Linked DNA regions of Homo sapiens: region 2 is linked to region 1. A link means that fine-mapping ties the variant in region 1 to the expression of a gene that starts in the linked region. Tissue or cell type: tibial nerve. Region 1 holds a variant in brackets; the other region holds the start of a gene. All regions are shown on one strand. Distances are between the middles of the regions.

What was found. PIP is the estimated chance that this variant, and not a neighbour inherited with it, causes the effect.
Region 2: it holds the start of TAC1, and the variant in region 1 is fine-mapped to the expression of TAC1 in tibial nerve (GTEx, PIP 0.99).

What each region holds. Positions count from the first base shown.
Region 1 is chr7:97,266,577-97,274,275 of GRCh38, forward strand. LOC124901704 (a long non-coding RNA gene) reads right to left here and starts at 6,011. Exons shown (of 3, transcript XR_007060445.1): 1 at 5,881-6,011. RefSeq lists an enhancer at 3,073-3,593. The variant A/C (reference allele first, on the strand shown) is at 3,889.
Region 2 is chr7:97,728,692-97,736,390 of GRCh38, forward strand. It overlaps TAC1 (tachykinin precursor 1), which reads left to right and starts at 3,395. Exons shown (of 7, transcript NM_003182.3): 1 at 3,395-3,504; 2 at 3,913-4,044; 3 at 5,032-5,128; 4 at 5,557-5,601; 5 at 6,135-6,158; 6 at 7,608-7,661. The coding sequence starts at 3,922. RefSeq lists an enhancer at 2,554-3,753.

The DNA of each region.
Region 1 (7,699 bases):
TCATAAAAGTATACAGTAAGATGAAGATAATATAAATGTCAAAAATGTAGAGTAGAGTTGGGCAGTTTGGGGGGTAACATAAGGACTTAAATTCCCATCTTTCATAGTTAGGAGTCAGTAGACAATGCCCAAAGGTGTTAATTCAAAATACAGAGTTAAATCATAACTTATTGCTATGTAACCGTCAGAAAATATAAAACCAGAAATAGTTAAAAGAAGTTATCCCTGACATATAACAGAACTGACGTTTGGGTGGGCAGAATTGGTATTTATCTTCTATTGTAAATTGTTTTGTACTATTATATTTTTTTATCAGAAAAAAAAAATTGAAAATGTAATCAGTTACCAGCCAGATAACCTCGAGCAAGTTACCTCTCAATGTCCCAGCCCCCTGCCTGTAAATGGGAAAATAGCAGCCATTTCATAGAGTTGTTGTGAGAATGTATGTGAATTGTTGACCACAATGCTTATGTCATAGTAAATACTCAATACATTGGGGCCACTAGTTTGATTATAATTTAAGAGTTGTAAGTTGGTTCCCCTTTTTAGAGCCCCAGTATTTTCTCCTTATCCTCAACTCTACTCTCAAGCAATTAAGAGCTCTAGTTGAGGGGGGTTTTATTTCATTATCACCAAAAACAGACGACTAGGTATATGTGAAAATGTTAATCATGAATGTGTGGATTTCTTTTTATTTCTTTTTATTTTTTATTGAGACGGAGTCTCTCTCTGTCGCCCAGGCTGGAGAGCGGTGGCGCAATCGCGGCTCAGTGCAAGCTCCGCCTGCCGGGTTCACGCCATTCTCCTGCCTCAGCCTCTCCGAGTAGCTGGGACTACAGGCACCCGCCACCACACCAGGCTAATTTTTTTTGTATTTTTAGTAGAGATGGGGTTTCACCGTGGTCTCGATCTCCTGACTTCGTGATCTGCCCGCCTCGGCCTCCCAGAGTGCTGGGATTACAAGTGTGAGCCACCGCGCCTGGCCGAATGTGTGGATTTCTGACAGGCACATGGTAGTCCTCACATGCTATCTGGAGACCTGCTCTATCTGCTTCTGGCAATGTGAGGGTTCCTCTCCACTATAAGAAACTCAGATGATATGTGGCATATGTGATTTATGATATGTGGTCAAAAAAGGATTGATTTGGAAAAATGTCTACTATATGTTATATGAAAAAATTTAGGACAATATGTATAGTCTGGATTTTTAAATTAAAATAGAAATATAAGGACCCTTATATGTGTATATACATATTTCCTGTAAGCATAGAAAGATTAATTAAAATCAAGAGTTAATTTTATATCACATACTTTCATATAGCTAAATTATTACAAGAAGTGTGTAATAGTTTTATTATTAGAAAGCGCAGTGGCCCACAGCACTCTTTTGAAAGGAAACGTATAGATAAGTGGTCAGGTTTGGGTATGTGTACTCAAGGAGGAAATGTGGGTCAGTGGCTCACAGATAAGGAGCTCAAAAATTTACTCAGAGTTCTTTATTTCCCATGAAATACAGTATTGGTACCAGTTCAGTGCCAATAAAAGTTAATTTGTGAAAAAGAACTATTACTCATTTTGCAACTAAAATTATTTTCCAGATTAAGTCTGTTGCTTCTGTTCTTACCATTGGTAAATCACCTGTTAAGTGTACCAAGCCATGCAAAGACATTTCCTACTGGAACTATTAGCATGCATGTTGCCTAGGAAAGGTCAGTGGAAACATTCTTCATCATTTGAAACGTTACTGTAGGAACCAGTAAGAATACTCTGCCTGAATTATGGAAAACTCTTTCTAGACTTCAAAGGGCTTTTATAGCTCTACTTCTACAGAATCCCCAGTGTTTCTAAGTTGATGAAGTGATCCAAAGTCTGGAGGCTGAGACCATAGAGGTACCTTTGCAAATAAAAGGGTCTTGGCAGGGAGTCATGGGGGAGGCATGTTAAAATCTAAGAGGGCCATGAGAGAGAAATAATCTGCCACTGTCTCCAGGCTACACTCATTTTCTCCACGCATAACCTAGGGTTTCCTCTTTCGGACAACAAGAATGCCAAATGGGAATGCCACATTGAATTTGGTGGTCTTTGGAAGGTGGATGGAAGTGGAAAATGAAGATAATGAGAGGGGAGAAGACCCCTGGAAAAGAGTAATTGGGAAATCACCTACCTTTCTAAGAGTGGAGAGTAGATGCACCATTTAAAAACTCCAGGATATAACCTAGGATTTACAATTGCTATGTCATGATGGTGTCCCTTGGGGGATCCCTTTACCGTAATAACTAGCAAGATTAAAAAAGTATTAGTAAGGTGTTTAGACATTCCGCAATGTATACATATATCAAAATATCATATTTTATGCTATAAACATATAGAATTATGTTAATTATAAAACGAAATAAATTGAGGAATAGACATGCAATGAAATACTGTCAAGCAATAAAAATGAACAACAATTATTCTAAGTGAAGTAACTCAGGAATGGGAAACCAAATGTCTTATGTTGTCACATATAAGTGGGAGGTAAGTTATGAGAATGCAAAGGCATAAGAATGCAATGGACTTTGGGGACTTGCGGGGGAAGGTTGGGAGAGGGTGAGGGATAAAAGACTAAATATCACGTAAAATGTTCACCGCTTGGGTGACGGGTGCACTATGAGCTCAGAAATTACAAATAGAGAACTTATCCATGTAAGCAACATTGTAATAAAATTGTAATAATTTTGTTTTTCTCTATACTTTTCCCATCTAAGTATGAACTGCTAAACACTGTAGCTTAGCTTTCCAGGTGTTTAATCTTTACATAAATGAAATTATTCTTTACATAATTGAGATTAAGAATAATCTCACTGAAAATCTGGAAAGCCTAGCTATAGTGTATAGCAGCTCATATTTAGGTGGGAAAAGTGTAGAGAAAAGCAAGAAAATTATTACCACAAAAGTCAAGTATCAGTTATCCATGGTGGGGAGGGGAAGGTTGTTTTGAGTGTCAAGGAGTAGATGTGGGGGTAGGTAGGGAAGTTATTAGTAAAATAAACGGATTACAGGCGTGAGCCACCACACCTGGCCAATACTTTTTTCTTCCACAACCAAACATAATTTAGAAAACTTAGGAGGAGAAGGAAAGCCTAGTGTTTACCCATATTTTTCCTTACTCTCTTCCTTCTTCATTCCCAATAATCTAGTCCCCCCAAAACCTGAGAACTCAGGATAACCACTAATGTAGTCCAGGCCAAAAGCCAGCTTGAGACTCAGGAAGAATCAATGTTTCAGCTGAGTTCAAAGCCAGGAAAACAGCACAACAAAACACAATGTTCCATTTCAAAGGCCATCAATCAGGAAAACATCCTCTCTTACTCAGAGGTCAGCCCTTTTGTTCTAGTCAGACTATCAAGTAATTGGATGAGGCCCACCCACATTAGGGAAAACAATCTGCTTTACTCAGGCTCCCAACTCAAATGGTAATCTCATTCCAGTCTGAAATATTTGAGGCCAAAGAAAAATACCCAGATAACTCATCACCATGTTGTTCTTTATTCCCATATTCCCTAATGGCCAGCTTATTTTCTCTACCTTTCAGCATTTTCTTGTTTGTCTTACACTGTTTCCAGAGATTTCAGTTGCACTTATCAGGAGGAATAGGGAAAAATATACTTACTCCATCTTTCCAAAAGCAAATATAATTTGAGTTTTGAAGTTAATCTTTTTATCTCAGACACTGAGGGAAAATAATTCAATCACTGGTTGGTCAGAGAGATCATCAACACTAAAAATTCCTCCATTGATTTCACCAAAAAGGTTCTTAGTCTAAAACCCCCAAAACCAATCTCAGGTCACTTTTTCTGTTTTCAAATCTGAGTCATGCTTTTCAGAAAACTTCAGTTTTGTTATTTA[A/C]AATGAAACCTCCTTGAGGTCAAGGGCTACTTTTGTATTTCCATGGTTATTCAAAACATACTCGGGACATACTCTCTTTCCAGAGCTAGACTGAGAAAGATCCAAGAACAAGAAGAGCAGGTAGGAGTTTAATAATAATAGCATGGCTAAGGCTAAATACCAAAAATTAGGCCAGATGATTTTTGCAGAGCATCAAATAGTATCTCTAATTTTCACAATATCTTATAAACTGGCAACAATCTCCTTTTACAACTGTGGAATATTCCAAGAAATTAAGTGATTTCTCCAAAGAAACATAGCTTAGGAATAGCAAGGCCGCCAGTTGATTCTAGGATCCAAGGTTGCTCTTCCCTTTACATTATAAAAATATGGAAAGGAAAAGGAGTGGCTGGGCACAAAAATTATGGCAGAAGAACTGGCAGGACTTATTTACTGCTTAGCTTGGGGTGTAATGAAAGAGAATGAACCAAATACAACTTTGGAGTTAAGGTTCTTTGCAGAAAAATGATGGCTTCTTTCAATTACTAATCAGGAAGAGATTTAATAGCAGGAATCAGTGCTTAGGAAAGTATAGGGCAGGCAAAAGAGTAGAAGCTAGCCTAGGTCTCCAGAAATACTTTCCAGATCCCAGTTCTGACCTGCTGGGGACTTACTACTACAGAGACTATCACTGGAATTACTGAGTTCAAAAGTTTCACATGGATTTTTGACTGTGTGTTGGATTATTTCCCTTAACACCTGTATTGTTCAAGGATCAAAACCGTACTGGCATTTTAGTCTTTATATGAAGTTAGTTCCTGGGAAGGGATTAGGTAATTAGTGCCTTATTTTCTGTCCAAAAGCGAAAGACAATTCCTTTTGGAAGGTAAAATGGCTTTTCCCAGAAAACTGAGGCAGCACGAATACAACTAATGGAAAAATACAGTGAGAGTTTCGGAGTGAAGATTTTGTAAACAGACGATATTAAAATTTTGTTATACCTAGTGATTTCTATCAACCTAAATTTCTAAAAATCAAAATATGTAATGGTATCAAATTAAATAATACAAAGAGCTAAAATTGAGAAGCTGTAGTCTCCCCATCCCTCTCTATCCTACACCCACTCCGTATCATGTATGAATTGAAAGTGGAATAACCAAACAATTAATTGTTAATATAATACCAACTAGTAGTTTGGAGATAAGTGCAGGGTTTATTCAGGGGTCCAGGGTTACTATCCCCAACTGATCCATACACCAGGGAGAATGTTGCAACTTCATGATCATGTGGATTCACTTTTCACGCATTTTTTCAATTGTTTGTAGTAGCCCTGTCCCTGAAAACTCCCTTCTGAAGCAGCCTCTGGCTCCTGTCTGTACCTGCTGCTTTCTAGGCTCACTGCATAACCATCGTCCTAGGAATCCCCGCTCCTGGCCGTTTTGGGTTGGAGCTATACAGTTTTCTTAAACTGTGCTTTCTTCCTTCCCTCCTGCATTTTGAATACATCTTTAAATGACTTTTGAGGAAAGGCTAAATTTTCTGTCATTGCTTGTCTGAAAATGGCTTTATTCATGCTCTTCCTTGATTGATAAAGTCATTTTGTCCCCTTAGAATGCACTGCTCTGTAACGTCAGAGAATCAGCATAGGCAGTTAGCCAAAAACTACTCTCGATTAATTTCTGAGACGCTTCCATCCAGAGGGCTGATTGATACGCTTTGAGTGTGTCTATGGTTAGATGTGTCTATGGGTTATAGCTTTTTCCTATTATAGTACATCTTATTAATAGCAAATTTGCCTTCTTAATAGCAAAAGTCACTGTTATGATTTCTATTGTTACGGTTTACTTTTAATTTGATTTTGAGGTCTTTCTCTCAAGAGTGACCATAAACCAAGATAACCACTTTCTAGGAGAGCCCTGACTAGGAGAAAGTTAGATTCGGGTGTATCAGGCAGGTGAGACAAAATGAGGAAGTAAAACCAAATGCATGAAACACAAGAAGGTTATTACTTACAGATCACATAGAGGTTAGGGGTGTCAACAGGAGGCTGACGGGAAGGCTAGAGGTGGCAGGGAGCTCAACCAACGGGTGGGGAGCAAGAGACAGAGAGAAGAGCTGTGGGGCCAGGTCTTTATTAAGGTGCACGGGTGTTAGCCCTTACACTTTCCTCAGGGGTTGTGAATTTTTTACTTTAAAGAAAACACTTGTGAATTGGGGAACTTGTTTACAAGACTCTGGTGTTAACCATTAAGTTTTATCACGGCAGCACCTGTGGAATATGTTGGGTTTGGTTCAATGAGATGAGGAAAAAACGGGCTGTATTGCAAACAACCACACAGGGAGGGAAAGTTTTAACTGGGCCAAAGGTGACAGTATATGACTGGGCTTCAAATAACTTATGGCAGTCCTAAAAATGGGTGCTGAGGCAGCACTTTATTAAACAAATTGATGACAATCCACCTCTGGGTGCCCTGGCATGATATTTTAAATGTAAGACAGTTGTAGCTTGAGTGGTGAAGATATTGACTGCAAGGAGAATAATATCATTCCCAAGAAAGTAAGCATTCAGTATGGCAGTTATGTTGTTGGTTATGAACTAATAATTGAGCAAAGTATATGTAAATATTAGTGGTATTGTGTCTAGCCAAGGGGAAGGAGTGGTTGTGGTTGGAGATGCAAGTCAAGAGGCTGTGGTAGAAAGCTGGATGGGGTTACAGTAGGAGAAGGCACCACAGAGTAGTCAGTCTTCTCCCCAGGGGGCCAAGGGGTTGTTTAATATGAGATAGGTGCCTCCTGGGGAAAGCAATAATCATCATTAATTTAGTAACCTCTATCAGGTTTTCCTTTAGGCATGGAAGTGTAGCGGTGTATTTTAGAAGAGAACAAGGACTATACCAGGATCACGGGCTAAGCAGACAGTGAGTTCAGAAAGAACATTTTAAACGTGTCAATTTTGTGCCTTAGGACAGGCAGCCCATGGGTGTTGCTGAGTGGAGACTTTAGTGTAAGAGGTGAAGTCTCCAGCACAGGGGGCAAAGTCATCTCCAACAATAAGGTCTTGGGATGGTCTTGCAATGTCATCTTAGGCAATGACAGCTGAAGCATTATTTTGGGCCCTTGCAAGCTTGTGTGGGATTGTAGGACTGGGGTATCCTTTTAAGTGAGTACCTACTTAAGTTGATGTAGGCCTCTGGATTGCAAATCAGTATAAATGCCCAAACCAATAGTGATAAGGCCATCAACAGAATGGTGTGCAGCTGCATCTGACAGGGTGTTTTTTGTTTGTTTGTTTGTTTGTTTGTTTTGAGCATGTGGAAGTTTAGATGTAAATGGGTTATCTATCAGATGAGCAAATGCCTGGCCTATAGGAAAATCTATTATTAATGAGTCCCAGGAAAGTATGTGCCTTCCATCTGGCCTCCAGCCCTTGTGGAATGGGGGCAAGATTGAAAATTTATAAAGATAGGCCAAGACCTGGATAAAATAAACTTTTGGGTGTTGTGAGGCGAGAGATTCCCAGATTTTTTTTTTTTTTAAATTTTGAAAGGTACAAGTTTTAGGTAATGACCCAAGGGTTTATAACGAAAGTGAAGATGAGACCAGGACATCCAGTACTAAGAGAGCTCTCTTAGGTTTGGCTAAATGTGTTTTTTTGGGTCCCATTCTTTATTAGGGACATGACGGCTAAGGGATAGAAAGTGGCAGTATTCCACTAAGCTCATCACATATGATAGTTAAGAGTGCCACATGCATGCATAGTCTACAAACTCTTGTTACTGTTCACTCAGTTTATCCTAAGGGGCTTTCCAGATAGTCAAGAGGTCAGGGGGAG
Region 2 (7,699 bases), 460 kb after region 1:
AATCATGTTGATGTCATTTGGAGTATGGAAAAAGAGATGCAAAAGGTTAATTAAAAACTCTATGAGATCCTGATTTGAAAAGAAAGTCGGTATACATTCATGATTATAGATACACACACACACACACACACAGAGAGACACACACACACACATTGTTCTCAGCTCTGTCTGCTGAAAAGGTCTTGAAGCAATGAAGAACTCACTAACAACGTGTAAAAATAAAGCCCAGTTTATGATCTCTAATGGTCATTTTCAATTCTAAAATTAGGGCCCCTTAAAGGCAGATTTCGGGTCAGAAGCAAAACGTATATAACTTTGACCCGAAACATTTTGTCATACCAAAAACAAGAAAAAGCCATCAAAGCCTATTGGCATAAAGTCTCAGGAGTCACTTTGAAGAGTCACCTGCAGGCCAAGAATAGGTCTGAACTTCAATTAGAAGAATGCCTGCCATGGATTGAAATATAGTTGGCCCCCTGTATCCATGGGTTCTGCATCTATAGATTTAACCAAACATAGGTCATAAATATTTAGAAAAAAATGCATCCGTGCTAAACACATACAGACTTTTTCCCTTTGTGTTATTCCCCACATAATACAGTATAACAACTATTTACACTGCCTTTATATTATATTAAGTATCATAAGTAATCTAGAGATTATTTAAAATATATGAGACGATGTGCATAGGTTATATTCAAATACCACACCATTTTGCATCAGGGACTTGAGCATCCACAGGTTTTGATACCTACAGGAGGTCCTACAGCCAATCCCCTATGCATACTGAGTGATGACTGTATGTCAAATGTGTTTAAATCCAGGAAGTCATAATAATCCTAATTTTTTAAAGTGGGTCTTATTAAAAGGTGTTAATTTACCAATTCATTATTTTCAAAATTGGTAGAGAGACATAATCAAGCATTTATCCCATCTTTCCTATATTAATAATGCTTTAGAATAACTAGTTGCTGAGAAACATGAAAGAAACAAGTCTGCCTACCAGACAAATAATGAATGATAAAATCAACATAGCACTGTTTTGAAAATACTAATGAATTAATAGATCTAGAAAATGATAGTCAATGGCTGCTAACAACTCAAAAGGAGAAACAACCACATATCATGTGCTTCCTACCAGAACAACACAACACATGTGAAGTAGTCTCATCAAAAAAAAAAAAAAAGAAAAAGAAAAGGAAAAAGAAAAAAATGTACAGAGGATCAAACTTCTAGATACAACTACCAATTAACAGGAAATAATCGAAACAGAGAAACAAGTTAAAAGGCAATCAGCAAAGTCCAGAATGCGGTACACTCTCCTGACCTGTCTTATCAATAAACTACAATAGAGAGAGAAAGAGAGAGCGAATTACAGATTCAGGGAGATTTAAGAAACATGCAGTAGAAGGAATGTTCGTGTCCCTCCAAAATGCATGTGTTGAAATCGTAACCCCTAAGGTTATGGTATTAGGAAGTGGGGTCTTTGGAAGATAATTAGATCATGATGGTGCAGCTCTTATGAATGAGATCAGTGCCCCGATAAAAGGGACTTTGAAGAGCTCTCTCATTCTTTCCTGCCATGTGAGGATATAACAAGGAGACAATATGACAGTCTGTAACCTGGAAGAGGGCCTTAAACACAACCAGACCATGCTGACACCACGATCTCAGACTTCCAACCTTCGAAACTGTGAGAAATAAATTTCTGTTGTTTACGTCACCCAGACCATGGTACTTTCTTACAGCAGCCTGAACTAACAAAACCAATTGTAATGTATGGACTTCATTATAATTCTGATTTCAAGTAGTAAACTGTGTGGGCCGGAATTAGGAAGCAATGAGAAATATTTGAATGCTAACTGGATATTTAATGTAAGGAATTATTTTATGTTGTTTTAGGTGGGATAATGGCGTGGATATGTTTTTATTTTTTTTAATTCCTACCTTTATACAGACATGCTGAAATATTTACAGTTGAAATGATTAACTGTCTGGGATTTTTTTCAAAATAATCTCAGTGCAGAGGAAACTGGAAGGGTTGTAGATGAAACTTGGAAGTGGATGTTTCTCTCTACTTTTGGATATGCTTATAATTTTCCATATAAAAGTTCTGAAAACGGAAAATAAAATGCTCACATTGTGAGGCTAAGGCCAAAAGAAATCAGAGATGCATGAGAATTTCCAAATTCAGGATTATTTAAGAACAACATAGAGAAAAAAATACTTCTGGTTTGAGTTGCAAAAATTTATTTCTTTTATGCAATATACTAAAAAATCATAATTAATTGAAAAATATAATACTTCATATGTAAAGGGGAGAAAACTACTCCACCAAAGATGTCACATCTTTTAATTCATTTGGAGATCAAAGAAATGTGTCTGCCAGGCAACCAAGGGCTCATGGAAAGGTGTGGTTTCTGTACAAATGCTATTTGTCTAATATTTTGTGCTGTTAATGACTGTCCCATTAGCATCTTCACTACACTTACTTTCATAGAAAGGAGAAACATGATTTATAGAGCCCTTTAGTGACAAGGGTGAGGATCCTACACACTATGTTGCTGGTTTCCTAGTCTTCAGCAAGAAAGTGTAGGAGAGAAGCAAAAAACGTCCTGTTCAACCCCTGCTCCTGGATGTGGCAAGGAAGAGGAGTTACCCGGCTTGAAACAAAAGAAATCCTAAGTCTGACACACAATGTCATGTTTAAATTCCCCTTTCTCCAAAATGTAAAATAAATCTGCTTCCATCTTCTAAAATACTATGGGACTAAACATCCTTTTGTTATGCTAAGGAAAAGCCAGTATTCGCGTTGATTTAGAAGAGGGATGTTCTGGTTATAGAACGATGCTGTGTCTCAGAAACACTTAAATACTATTAAGCTAGAAATAGAAGGGAAAATAATGCTTCCCCGCATCTCCCCTCAAGTGTAGTCCTCTTTTTTTAGCCTGATTTCCGACGAAATGTCTGAATGCCTACAGTTATTTGGCCATCCTGAAAAGTGCAACTTATCCTGACGTCTCGAGGGACGGAAAAGTTACCGAAGTCCAAGGAATGAGTCACTTTGCTCAAATTTGATGAGTAATATCAGGTGTCATGAAACCCAGTTTCGAAGGAGAGGGGAGGGGGCGTCAGATCTGCAGACGGAAGCAGGCCGCTCCGGATTGGATGGCGAGACCTCGATTTTCCTAAAATTGCGTCATTTAGAACCCAATTGGGTCCAGATGTTATGGGCATCGACGAGTTACCGTCTCGGAAACTCTCAATCACGCAAGCGAAAGGAGAGGAGGCGGCTAATTAAATATTGAGCAGAAAGTCGCGTGGGGAGAATGTCACGTGGGTCTGGAGGCTCAAGGAGGCTGGGATAAATACCGCAAGGCACTGAGCAGGCGAAAGAGCGCGCTCGGACCTCCTTCCCGGCGGCAGCTACCGAGAGTGCGGAGCGACCAGCGTGCGCTCGGAGGAACCAGAGAAACTCAGCACCCCGCGGGACTGTCCGTCGCAGTAAGTGCCCGCGCGGTGCTGGCCGCGGCTGCCCGGGTCACCCCGCCCCGCATCTGTCCGAGGTGGCCGCGCTGGGGGCGCCGCTGCGGCGAGGGACAGTGGGGAGACTGGCTTCCCAAACGCCAACGCCCCTCTTTGTCTTCCACCTGCAGAGTTTCCTGGTTTGAAGGTGTGGGTTGGTGGGTTAGGGGGCTGGGGGAGTTGGGATTCAGGGAGAAGAGGGTTGGAGAATCTTTGGGACGCGATTCTCTCGCCTAACCGGTACAGGTGAGACTTCAGTCCTTATGTTTTTGATCTTGGTTCATCCGTTGTGGGGCAGAAAATTCTGTTGCTTTAACTCTTGGATAACCACCCCTAATAGATACATTATTTCTCTCTTTGGTGTCTTCTCCTCCTACCCCTTCCCAGAAATCCAACATGAAAATCCTCGTGGCCTTGGCAGTCTTTTTTCTTGTCTCCACTCAGCTGTTTGCAGAAGAAATAGGAGCCAATGATGATCTGAATTACTGGTCCGACTGGTACGACAGCGACCAGATCAAGGTGAGGCCCCTTCCCAGGACGGCCCGCACCCTTCTTCCTGGGCTCGGGAGCTGTCACCTTCCCACGCAACAGCACCCTAGTTAACGTGGCACGCACCGCCACCACGGAAAGAGGCAGCGGTTGCGTGCGAGAGGATGGAAAGGGGCACTATTTCCCGGGTTCCCCACGGGATTTTGTGCCCACGATTCAAGTTTCTTCCCGAGGGCTGCACCGTCCGGCCCAGGAACTCCCTGCAGTAGGGATGCCCTCCCGGATGAGCCCGAGATCCTCACAAGGCGGGAAATCTCGTAAGATTTCATCCCCCAGGACCTGGGATTTCGGGGGCTCCGGTCCAGCTGCACTGCCCTAGCGTCTGGGCACGGGCAGAGGAGGGCGCCTGGGTCGCGGGCAGCAGCGGGCACACGCGCGAGCTGCAGGGGGATTGGAGGGCCGGAGGCTGGAGGGAAGTTAATTTCCTGCCTTCACGTTTGTTTTGCGGACCTGAGGATGTAGCTTGAAGTCTCCCTTTAGAAACTCGTAGGCTACAGGCGCTGGGGAGCGCGCCTCGGAAAAACGGTGAAAGTCGTCTGTAAAGCGTTGTCACCCTTCCCCACCGGAGCCCCAGCCCCAGATCCCACACACCTGTGTGCATTTAGGGCGGTGAGGACTCTACAAAGCCGGCACCGAGACAAGACAAAGTCAGGTGGCGGCGCAGCAGATGAGGGAAGGTCCCCGGGCTGGGAGGAAAGAGCGGAAAGCGCTCGAAGCTTGAAGACGCCGAGCCAGCTGCTAACTCGCCCTGGCAGGCTTGCGGGGGGCGGGACGCGAGTTCGGCGGGGAGGGGCGCAGAGAGGCAGCGCCTCGGGAGGGACCCCGCTCAGCCCGAGCGTGGGGAAGGCCGCCTCCCCACGCCTCGGGGCCGGAGTACAGCGGGGGGAAGGGCTCGGGTTGCTGGGTGCCTCGCTCTGGTTGCCTTACACGCCCTTTGTCCGTGCTTTTGTCTCCCAGGAGGAACTGCCGGAGCCCTTTGAGCATCTTCTGCAGAGAATCGCCCGGAGACCCAAGCCTCAGCAGTTCTTTGGATTAATGGGCAAACGGGATGCTGGTGAGATAGGCGACCGTCCCTAGGTGTCTTGGGCAGCCCGCCCTGTCTGCTCACTCCTTCCTGGAGTACCCCAGGGTCTCTCGCTCTGAATAGAGATTTCCACTCCAAGAGGGGTGTAATTCCCCAGGCGCGACATTGGCCCACACCGCACTAAGGCACGCACGGGCCCGCGGGGGGAGGGAAAGATCTGGTTCGCATGCCTCACTGTATTCGAGTGAAGCGCTCCCTTGACTAAAGATCCAAACTGACAAAGGGAAGGCACGGGCCTCCAGGGGTAGTACTGCGGATGATCCAAGTGCATGTGGAAGAGGATTTTATAGCATTCCCTGAGGTGAGAGTACATTTGTCTTGGGATAGAAATATCGTTTCCTTGAATTCATCGCACGGTCAGTGGAACATGTAGTTAATGACAATTCGTCTCTTGTCAGATTCCTCAATTGAAAAACAAGTGGCCCTGTTAAAGGCTCTTTATGGTAAACATTCCTATAAATCTTTATTTTACTATTGTGAAAGCACATGTAGGAAAGTGAAATAAAATCTTTTATGGGCTGAAATACAAGATCTGGGTCATGCCTGTTTAATAAAGAGATGGATTTGCGCACTCTCTCTCGGTTTCTCTCTCTCTCTGTCACTCTCTCTGTCTCTCTCTCTCTGTCACTCTCTCTCAGTCTCTCTCTCTCTCTTTCTCTCTCTCTCTCAGTGGGTGGCCAGCCTTGAAGGTGGGATGTGTTACAGTCTTATAGTTAATAAGAGGCCTCAGAAGTCTCATAGTCCTAGGTTTGAATCCCATAGAAGGCACTTAATAAAAATTCCATTTGTTTGTTTAAATATTTAGTTTTTATGATTAATAATTTGTTTAGCATTTATGGTTCTGCTTTATTCCTCAGGATAATATATAGATAGAAAATGTTACATATTTTGAGAATCAAATTATTTTATAAAAGATATAATGTAGCATCTTTAAAAACAAATCTATATGTGTTTGCTAATTTTATCTTTCTTCTAGGACATGGCCAGATCTCTCACAAAAGTAAGTTCAAAATTATTTTGACATTTATCAAATTTAAATGTAAAATTATATTGAATTTCACTTTATTTATCTTACCTTATTTTCTGTCATGACTCTAGGGCTTAATATGTTTAATGAAGACAATATAAGAATGGGGGAGATTCATATTACATCCAGAATATGGTTGTTTAGACATATTGTACTTAGCAAAGAGATGCATTATATTAAAAAAGAAAAAAATGTCTTTTAAGTCCCTTCAATTGTTAGTTTTAGAGAAGAATTTCAATCCTAGGATTAGAAATCTACCATACATATTTCTTCCCAGCCACCCACCCCCTAAGCTTACTTTCACTGTAAACAAACAAACAAACAAACACGAAACCCCCACAAGCATTTATAGGCATCTCCTAACTCATTTTAGTATGCTTGGTCCAATAATGATGTCATTTATTAGGGTCATCCAGCAGCCAATTAAATGGAATGAGTGAGTGAACATGAGTAGAGAATCCATACTAAAAATGAAGACGGTAGAGATGCAGTTTTTTAATCCCCTAATTGAATGGGAAAACTCGATCAGTAAAACATTTCTTAGGGCAGCAAAGATGGCAAAATTGTGGTATGTGAAGGTCATTAAATTTGTTTCTCAGTTAATGGAACCGGAGTTGACAAGAAGTGGAAAGGGTCTATCTTCATCGTATTGTCCACTCACCTATTGTACCCTGTCATGGATTTGGTTCATTGGGTGGCAGAGCAGGCCACATTAACGTAGCAGCTCTATTCTCAACTATTAAAATAAAAACCAAGAGAAATTCTCTCACTAGCATTAAAATAGTAACCTTTCCAAAGAGTTCATCTTTGAAAAATAAATAGTATTCATATTTACTTTCTAAGGATTTGACTTTGAAGAGAATTATATATAAAAATTCTATGTAATAAAAAATGTACTCTGTTCATGTGAAAACTAATAAACTTTTCTGAAAGGAGTATCTTTTAATATCCAATAAAATAAAAACAGTGACCTTTTAGAAGATTATAATCATCAAGGAAAGGAATCTGGTTTAATTAAGGTCTACTTGCTGAGAAGTACAACTTATTAATAACACAAGGAATTATGCTTGGATATTTCACTCTCACACAAATGTGAAATTGACTTCCTAAAAAATCAAACCTAGCTCAAATAACAATATTTTATATAAAATATTTTAGACCCTTACATAACAGATAAAATATATGAATAGAGAGTGCTTGCTAATATTAAATATAGAATTAAGAAAAGTGGTTTCATTGTATTGTTTTAGTGTAATTTATAAAACTTTTAAGGAATCTTTATTTCTTCAGTCTCACCAAAACTTGAAGTAGATAGATATTTATTATACAGACATATATTCAGAAGCTTGCTTTGTTCTGGTTATAATAGTTTGTTTCCTCAAAGATATACATATTAAAATACCCCTAAATGTATTTTTCCAGGACATAAAACAGATTCCTTTGTTGGACTAATGGGCAAAAGAGCTTTAAATTCTGGTATGTATGAAATTATGACTGAAAATAGACAGTATCTC